Regions from separate parts of the Homo sapiens genome. Here region 1 is linked to region 2. Evidence: fine-mapped expression QTL. A gene starts in region 2. The other region holds a variant in brackets. All regions are shown on one strand. Distances are between the middles of the regions.

Region 1 (4,384 bases), 32 kb after region 2:
TTGTTCTTCGAACCCTTGACCCTTTCTCTTTCAGACTTGGTCAGGTACTTTCAGGGCCTGGGCCCCCCACCGAAGTTCCAGGTAACACTGAATTTCTGGGAAGAGAGCCATGGCTCCAGCCATACTCCACAGAATCTTATCACAGTGAAGGTGAGCTCGGAGCAGGGGTAGAGTACCCATCTAATGAGAGCAGAGACAGTGGTGCTCCAGGAGGCAAAGGGGGTCTCCCAGTGGGGAAGGAGCTCCTGGGGGTGGTGTCTGTCCCTGATGCACGCACTGAGATGCTCTTCTCCATCTCTTCCAATACAGATGGAGCAGGCCTTTGCCCGATACTTGCTGGAGCAGACTCCAGAGCAGCAGGCAGCCATTCTGTCCCTGGTGTAGAGCCTGGGGGACCCATCTTCCACCTCACCTCTTTGTTCTTCCTGTCTCCTTTGAAGTAGACTCATTCTTCACACGATTGACCTGTCCTCTTTGTGATAATTCTCAGTAGTTGTCCGTGATAATCGTGTCCTGAAAATCCTCGCACACACTGGCTGGTGGAGAACTCAAGGCTAATTTTTTATCCTTTTTTTTTTTTAATTTTGAGATATACGCCCTCTTTCATCTGTAAGGGACTAGGAAATTCCAAATGGTGTGAACCCAGGGGGCCTTTCCCTCTTCCCTGACCTCCCAACTCTAAAGCCAAGCACTTTATATTTTCCTCTTAGATATTCACTAAGGACTTAAAATAAAATTTTATTGAAAGAGGAATCAGTATCTGATTTTCTGGGAGAAGAAGGTAGCAGTGGTCACAGATAGAGATGTAAACTTAAGAGTGGGGCACTGGGGTTCTCTTCCTGCTGACATCTCCAGCCTCTTTCCTCTCCTCTGCCCACAGGTTCTGGCTAAGATGCTGCCTGGGCCCTGTGGGTCCTGGGCCTGGCACTCTACAGAGGTACCCTCTGGGCAGATAAGATTAGGGTGTGGGTTGGGCACCAAGCCTTCAGCCAGGCACTATAGCCACCAACTTCACATGGTAAAGTCTGGGCTCCACAGTTCTTGCTAGAAGGCCCCAACATCGGGCCTGAGGTTAGTTAGATTGGAGGTCTAAATGAAGAGGAGACACTTGAGGGTGACCTGAAACTATGGTCTAGAGGCCCTGGGACCTGAGAACAGAGGAGTCAGAGAGAAGAGTTGCTGAAACTGTACCTGCTGTTACTGGCACCTCTTCCTCCAGCACAATTTCACTGTCACCCCAGCAGGGTACTCCCAAACTGGATTCCTTGCTCTATCTAAGCCCCATAAAAGACACTCTGGCCGGCTGGGCGCAGTGGCTCACACCTATAATCCCAGCACTTTGGGAGGCCAAGGTGGGTGGATCACTTGAGATCAGGAGTTCGAGACCAGCCTGGCCAACACGGTGAAACAGCGTCTCTTCTAAAAATACAAAAATTAGCCAGGCCTGGTGGCGGGCACCTGTAATCTCAGCTACTTGGGAGGCTGAGGCAGGAGAATCGCTTGAACCCGGGAGGCGGAGGTTGCAGTGAGCCAAGATCGTGCTATTGTACTCCAGCCTGGGCAACAAGAGCGAGACTCTGTCTCAAGATTAAAAAAGAAAAAAAAAAAAAGCACTCCGGCCTAGACTGCCATGTCATGCTGTTCATGAGACTTGAGGGCTCCAAATTGGCTGACACTCTTCTTTCCCCCATGTTCATTTTACTACGAAACTGGAAGTTTTTCCTTCACCACAAGGCCACTTGTCACCTACTTTTTTGTACACTCACTTCCAGCAAACTAGTTCCAACCCAGGCCACAGCCTTCAGCTTCCTTCTTCCTGCATATGACACCAGCTTAGCTTTCCAGACTTCCTTCTGTCATTTCACCCTTCAGCCCTCAATGGTTCACACACATGATCAAATCTGGATGCCTAAGTCTTCCTAGGACCTTCTTGCTGCCTCATTTGACAAGCTTCAGTGCTGCCTTTGAGCCTCCCTGCCTCCATGGACCTCCCTTCTTCCCTTCAGTCTTGTCCATCATCCCACTGGGAAGCCAAGCACCTAGACATTCTCTGCACTAGCAGTGAAGAAATGAGGTACTGAATGCAGAGGTGTACAAACCCTGTTGTGCCCTCAATGTGATGCAATGTGATGAAATCCTTCCTGGACCTTCTTTGTACAAGGTCTAAATTATCTCCTTGACTTCCATTTTATTTTAATTATTTTGATTAAAAACAAAAACTTGGCTGGGCATTGTGGCTCACACCTGGAATCCCAGTAATTTGAGAGGCCGAGGTGGGTGGATCACCTGACGTCAGGAGTTCGAGACCAGCCTGGCCAACATGGTGAAACCCCGTCTCTACTAAAAATGCAAAAAATTAGCCAGGCGTGTTGGTGGACACCTGTAATCCCAGCTACTTGGGAGCCTGAGGCAGGAGAATCGCTTAAACCCAGGAGGCGGAGGTTGCAGTGAGCCGAGATTGCACCACTGCACTCGAGCCTGGGCAAAAAGAGCAAAACTCCATCTCAAAAAAAAAAAATTTTTTTTTT[C/T]GGCTGGGCGTGGTGGTTTATGTCTGTAATCCTGGCACTTTGGGAGATCGAAGTGAGAAGACTGCCTTAGCCCAGGAGTTTGAGACTAGCCTGGGTGACATAGTGAAACCCTACTTCTACAAAAAATTCTTTTTTTTTTTTTTGAGACAGAGTCTCACTCTGTTGCCCAGGCTGGAGTGCAGTAGTGCAATCTTGGCTCACTGCAACCTCCACCTCCTGGGTTCAAGTGATCCTCCTGCCTCAGCCTTCTGAGTATCTGGGATTACAGGTGCGCACCGCTATGCCAGGCTAATTTTTGTATTTTTAGTAGAGACAGGGTTTCACCATGTTGGCTAGGCTGGTCTCGAACTCCTGACTTCAGGTGATCTGCCCACCTCAGCTTCCCAAAGTGCTGGGATTACAGGCGTGAGCCACTGCACCTGGCTCCCAAAAATTCTTAAAAATTAGCCAGGTGAGGCCAGGCATGGTGGCTCACACCTGTAATCCTTGCACTTTGGAAGGCCCAGGTGGGTGGATCACTTGAGGTCAGAAGTTCGAGACCAGCCTGACCAACATGGTGAAACCCCATCTCTACTAAAAATATAAAAAAAATCAGCTGGGCATGGTGGCACATGCCTATAATCCCAGCTACTTGGGAGGCTGAGGCAGGAGAATCACTTGAACCCAGGAGGCAGAGGTTGCAGTGAGCCAAGATCGTGCCATTGCATTCCAAGCCTGGGCATCAAGAGCGAAACTCCATCTCAAAAAAAAAAAGTGGGGGAAAAAAAAAAGCCAGGTGTGGTGGTGTGTGCCTATAGTCCCAACTACTTGACCTCCTAAAGTGCTGGGATTACAGGTGTGAGCTACTATACCTGGCCTCCTTCCGTTTTCTATCATACCCCACATCCAATTCATCAGCAAATCCTGTCGCTCGCTATTCCTTCAATATGTATCCAGGGTCTGACCACTTCTCTCTGTTCCCATCAGCAACACTTTGGAACAAACTACCACCATCTCTCATGTCTCCTCCTCTGCTTCCTTCACATCTGTTTCCACACGTGTCTACCTTAAGCTATTCTCAACACAGTAGAGATTCTTTTCACATGTAATTCTGATCATGTCACTCCTCTGCTCAGAACCTTCCAGTGGGTCCCAAATCACCCAGGGTAAAAGCCCAAATCCCCATAAGGACCTCTGAGGTCCTGTGATGCGACCCTACCCTCCTCTCTCTCTCTCTCTCGCCCCTTGCCATTCTTCCCCTGTCACTTTGCTCCAGGCTCCTTGAACCCACCAAACACATTTCTACCTCAGGGTCTTTGCATTTGCTGGTTCTTTTGTCTAAATTACTCTTCCTTCAGGTAGGCACATGACTTACCCACATTCTTCAAATTTTATCTCTTAAGAGAGGGGGCAAGGCTTCCCTGAGTACCCTCCCTAAATAGCAGCCGTCATTATTCTATCCTCCTATGCTGCCTCATTTTCTTCATAGCACTTACGGCCACTTCATGTATTTCTTTTTTTCTTTCTTTCTTTTTTTTTTTTTTTTTGACAGAATCGCCCATGCTGGAGCACAGCAGTGCAATCATGGCTCACTGCAGCCTCGACCTTCGGCTCAATCGATCCTCCTGTCTCAGCCTTCTGAGTAGCTGTGACTATAGGCATGTAATTTGAGAGGCCGAGGCGGGTGTCACCTGAGGTCAGGAGTTTGAGACCAGCCTGGCCAACATGGTTGAAACCCTGTCTCTACTAAAAATACAAAAAAATTAGCCAGGCATAGTGGCACATGCCTGTAGTCCCAGCTACTCAGGAGGCTTAGGTAGGAGAATTGCTTGAACCCAGGAGGCGGAGGTTGCACTGAGCCAAGATGGTCCATTGCA
Region 2 (4,384 bases):
CGCATATGGCCGGGCGCGGTGGCTCACGCCTATAATCCTAGCACTTTGGGAGGCCGAGGTGGGCAGATCACTTGAGGTCAGGAGTTCAAAACCAGCCTGGCCAACATGGTGAAACTCCATCTCCACTAAAAATACAAAAAAAAAAAAAAAAAATTACTTGGGTGTGGTGGCGGGCGCCTGTAATCCCAGCTACTTGGGAGGCTGAGTCAGGAGAATCCCTTGAACCCGGGAGGCGGAGGTTGCAACGAGCTGAGGTTGCACCACTGCACTCCATCCTGGGCAACAAGAGTGAAATTCCATCTCAAAAAAAAAAAAGTTAACACATTTGGTCCTCACAACAATAAAAGTATGAGGTAGGTTGTACTGATCTTGATTGGCAAAAAAAAAAAAAAATTGAGATAGTAGTGTTCCCATTGTACAGTTGCAAACACTGAGACACAGAGGTTAAGTAACTTGTTCACAACTAATAAACAGAGGAGCCATGATTACAAAGCTAGATAATATGGGTATATCATCTATCCTCTAAACCAGGAATTAGCAAACTTTGGCCCTCCTGTGGCCAGTTTTGTATGACCTGCGAGCTAATAATTATATATGTATAATATATATATTTATATATTATATATATTATTATATATTTTATATATAATATTTGCATATATAATATATATATAATTTTTTTTTAAAGACAGAGACCTGGCAGTGATGGCAGTGTAATCCCAGCACTTTGGGAGGCTGAGGCAAGAGGATCACTTGAGCCCAGGAGTTTGAGACCAGCCTGGGCAAGATGGTGAGACCCTGTCTGTATAAAAATTTTTTTTAAAAGGTAAAACATTTTTTACATTTTTATTTTTATTTTATTTTTATTATTTTTTTGGAGACAGAGTCTCACTCTGTTGCCCAGGCTGGAGTGCAATTCTGGCTCACTGCAACCTCCACCTCTCAGGTTCAAGCGATCTCCTGTCTCAGCCTCCCGAGTAGCTGGGATTACAGGCCCCCACCACCACACCCGTCTAGTGTTTGTATTTTTAGTAGGCACAGGGTTTCACCATGTTGGCCAGGCTGGTCTCGAACTTCTGACCTCAAGTGATCTGCCTGCCTTGGCCTCCCAAAGTGCTGGGATTAGAGGCGTGAGTCACTGTGCCCGGCCATTTTTACATTTTTTAATGGTTGAAAAAGCAAAAGAATAAGAATATTTTATTACAGGAGAAAGTTACATGAAATTCAAATTCCAGTGTCTATAAAATGTTATCTCACCAAACTAATTCATTTACATATGGCAGCTTTCCTACTACAATGGCAGAGTTGAGTAGACAGACACTGTAAGGCCTATAAAGCCTAAAATATTTACTCTCTGGCCCTTTATAGAAAAAGTTGGCCAGACGCGGTGGCTCATGCCTGCAATCCCAGCACTTTGGGAGGCCGAGGCGGGCGGATCACGAGGTCAGGAGATCGAGTCCATCCTGGCTAACATGGTGAAACCCCGTCTCTACTAAAAATACAAAAAATTAGCCGGGCGTGGTGGGACGCGCCTGTAGTCCTAGCTACTCCGTAGGCTGAAGCAGGAGAATCGCTTGAACCCTGGAGGTGGAGGTTGCAGTGAGCCTAGATGGTGCCACTGCACTCCACCCTGGGCGACAGAGCGAGACTCCGTCCCCCAACACACACACACACACACACACACACACACACGTTTGCCAAAACCTGGTTTAAATCAGTAAATTATCCTGGAAAAAAAAAAAAAAACACCTGGCTAATATCAGAGAGATAAATGCTATGAATGTACTAAAACAGGATGATTTGTAATAGATTTGGAGGGAGGTTCCTTATAAAGGATGATGAAAATAGTTCTCTCTGAAGAGGTGACATCTAAACTGAGAACCGAATGACAACACCCAGGGTAAGGGTGTTTTAGGCAAAGGGATTATTAGCAAGGGCAAAGGCCCTGAGGCAGAAATGAACATGACACATCTGAGAAACAAATAGCCCAAATATTTGCAAGTGTAATGAATGAAGGGGCAAGCAGTAGAAAGTGGACTTAAAGGGGAGACAGGTGCGACAGCCTTTTGGATTTCATTCAAAGGTCAACAGGCAGCTGAGAAAGGGTTTTAAGCCAGAGAGAGGCATGAACCCGCTGCTCCGTGAGAGTGGGTTATAGAATGGCATCTGCAGCCGTGGTCCAGGAGAGAGTTGGTCCGGGCTTGGATAGGGATGCTGCCAGCTCTGGTGCCGGTGTTGCTACAGGTGCGCAGGATGTCGGCAGAGCCAGAGGCCCACGCTAGCAAGGCTAGGAAAGACAGGCCAGGTCTTATTCCATCTCTAGGGAAAGACGGAAGAGCCCTAAGTAAAGCTTATCTGTCCCAGGCGGAGCAGGGGAAGAAGAGAGCAGGTGGGGAGCCAGTTGGGAGGCGGGAGGTGGAGGTTGGGACGCGGAGAGACTGGCTTGGGCTTGGCGATGGGAGGACCCGGACCCGCCGTCCTCAGGCGGCGGGCGGCAGGTGGCGGGAGGCGGGAGGCGGGGACCGGGCCAGCGGAGGTGGGGAGCCTGGAAGCTGGCCCTCGCGAGGCGGCGCGGGGAGGGTGGGTGAAGAGCGCCTGTGCGCGCTAGGCGGAGCCTCACCCGCCGCCCTCCTCTGCGGCACCGCCCCTTCCATGGCAGGGCTGACCCCGCCTCCTCCATCCGACCCCGCCTCCTCCAGCCCTCCCCGCCCCACTACCCAGGAAGGCGGAGCTGGGTGCGAGCGCCCTACCGCTTTCGCTTTCCCTTCGCGGTGCCCACTCCACTCCTTGTGCGGCGCTAGGCCCCCCGTCCCGGTCATGGCCATGCTCAGGGTCCAGCCCGAGGCCCAAGCCAAGGTGAGCGCCGCGGGGTCTAGAAAGGGCCCACTGGGGAGGCGTGGCTGGAGCGGCCGGGGGCATCCCCGACCCGCCCCCCAGGCTCCCACGCGAGTCGGGGGCAGTCGGCCGAGCTGGCGCGCCCGGAGCACCTGCGCCCCGGGGAGGGCGGCGACTGCTGCCTGCGGGGAGAGGCGAGGCGGCCGTGGTTCTGCGGGGTGAGGTGAAGCGGAGAGCTGGCGTGGAGGGGAACTCCGCTGGCCTGGGGCCGGGGCCACACACAGACTGGGTGCGGGACTGCCCCAGCTACCTTCTGGCCTTTCCCTCAGGGAGGGTCCCGGGGCCCACCCCATCCCTGTCCTACTTGCAGAGGACTCTCAGCACCCCTCCTCACACCTGCCAGGCGACCCCAGAGATCTGTTCTCACGTGAACACTGGCCCTTCACCGCCAGGAATGTTCTCATCCCCCATATCCAGCCCCAGGGATACCCACTCCACTTTCCGTAGATCCAGGTCTGCAGAGATCCACCTTCTCCACCACCCCAACCCACCCTACAGGCATCCATCTCGCTTTCTTCAGGTCTGGCCTTAGAGGGATCCCCTCCACCCTTCCCCAGGTCAGGCCCTACATAACCCTAAGGGAACTGTCCTCAAATGAACTGGCCTTAAAGCCAAGTTTCTGAAGGGATGCGTGTGCCCCACAGGTGGATGTGTTTCGTGAAGACCTCTGTACCAAGGTAAGACATGCCCCATCAGCGTGGCCCCACCCCTGCCCAACTCCTACTGCTCAACCCTGCCTCACTACCTAGGACGGGCATTTGATGCTGACTCCCATCCTCCTCCACCCCCACCTCACACACAGACAGAGAACCTGCTCGGGAGCTATTTCCCCAAGAAGATTTCTGAGCTGGATGCATTTTTAAAGGTACCGCGGCTGGGCAGGGAGCTAGGGAGTAAAGGCCAAGAGAAGAGTCTGGAGGCTGTGAGAGTGAGGTGAGAGGAACTCCCTCACCTCCAGCCCTCCTCCCACCCTACACCAGGAGCCAGCTCTCAATGAAGCCAACTTGAGCAATCTGAAGGCCCCATTGGACATCCCAGTGCCTGATCCAGTCAAGGAGAAAGAGAAAGAGGAGCGGAAGAAACAGCAGGAGGCAAGCTGGGAAGACCTGGGAGAAGGGATCCAACTATGGGGGTAATCAACCTTAGTCCTGACTCTCATGAGCTCCTCTCTTTCTGCAGAAGGAAGACAAGGATGAAAAGAAGAAGGGGGAGGATGAAGACAAAGGTACTTGAAACCACAATGGTGGGAAGAGACTTGAGTCCCACTCACAGGAGCTCCTCCTAAGGATTTCTTTCCAGTCTCCCCTTCGCCCCTCACACAGGCTCAATCATGTGACTGACCCATTGCTCACTCTCTAGGTCCTCCCTGTGGCCCAGTGAACTGCAATGAAAAGATCGTGGTCCTTCTGCAGCGCTTGAAGCCTGAGATCAAGGATGTCATTGAGCAGCTCAACCTGGTAAGCCCTCCCCCTTAAACTCTCAGGCTTCA

What was found. PIP is the estimated chance that this variant, and not a neighbour inherited with it, causes the effect. A credible set is the group of variants that fine-mapping cannot tell apart.
Region 1: its variant is the best candidate, but not a certain one, in a credible set for the expression of PSME1 in neutrophils (BLUEPRINT, PIP 0.75).

What each region holds. Positions count from the first base shown.
Region 1 is chr14:24,165,813-24,170,196 of GRCh38, forward strand. IRF9 (interferon regulatory factor 9) reads left to right here. Exons shown (of 9, transcript NM_006084.5): 8 at 35-150; 9 at 310-753. The coding sequence ends at 384. Among named protein-coding and RNA genes, the nearest start is that of REC8, 4.1 kb to the right of the region's middle. The variant C/T (reference allele first, on the strand shown) is at 2,529.
Region 2 is chr14:24,133,446-24,137,829 of GRCh38, forward strand. It overlaps PSME1 (proteasome activator subunit 1), which reads left to right and starts at 2,749. Exons shown (of 11, transcript NM_006263.4): 1 at 2,749-2,856; 2 at 3,540-3,572; 3 at 3,698-3,760; 4 at 3,876-3,986; 5 at 4,075-4,120; 6 at 4,255-4,352. The coding sequence starts at 2,818. RefSeq lists silencers at 2,323-2,742, 2,793-3,082.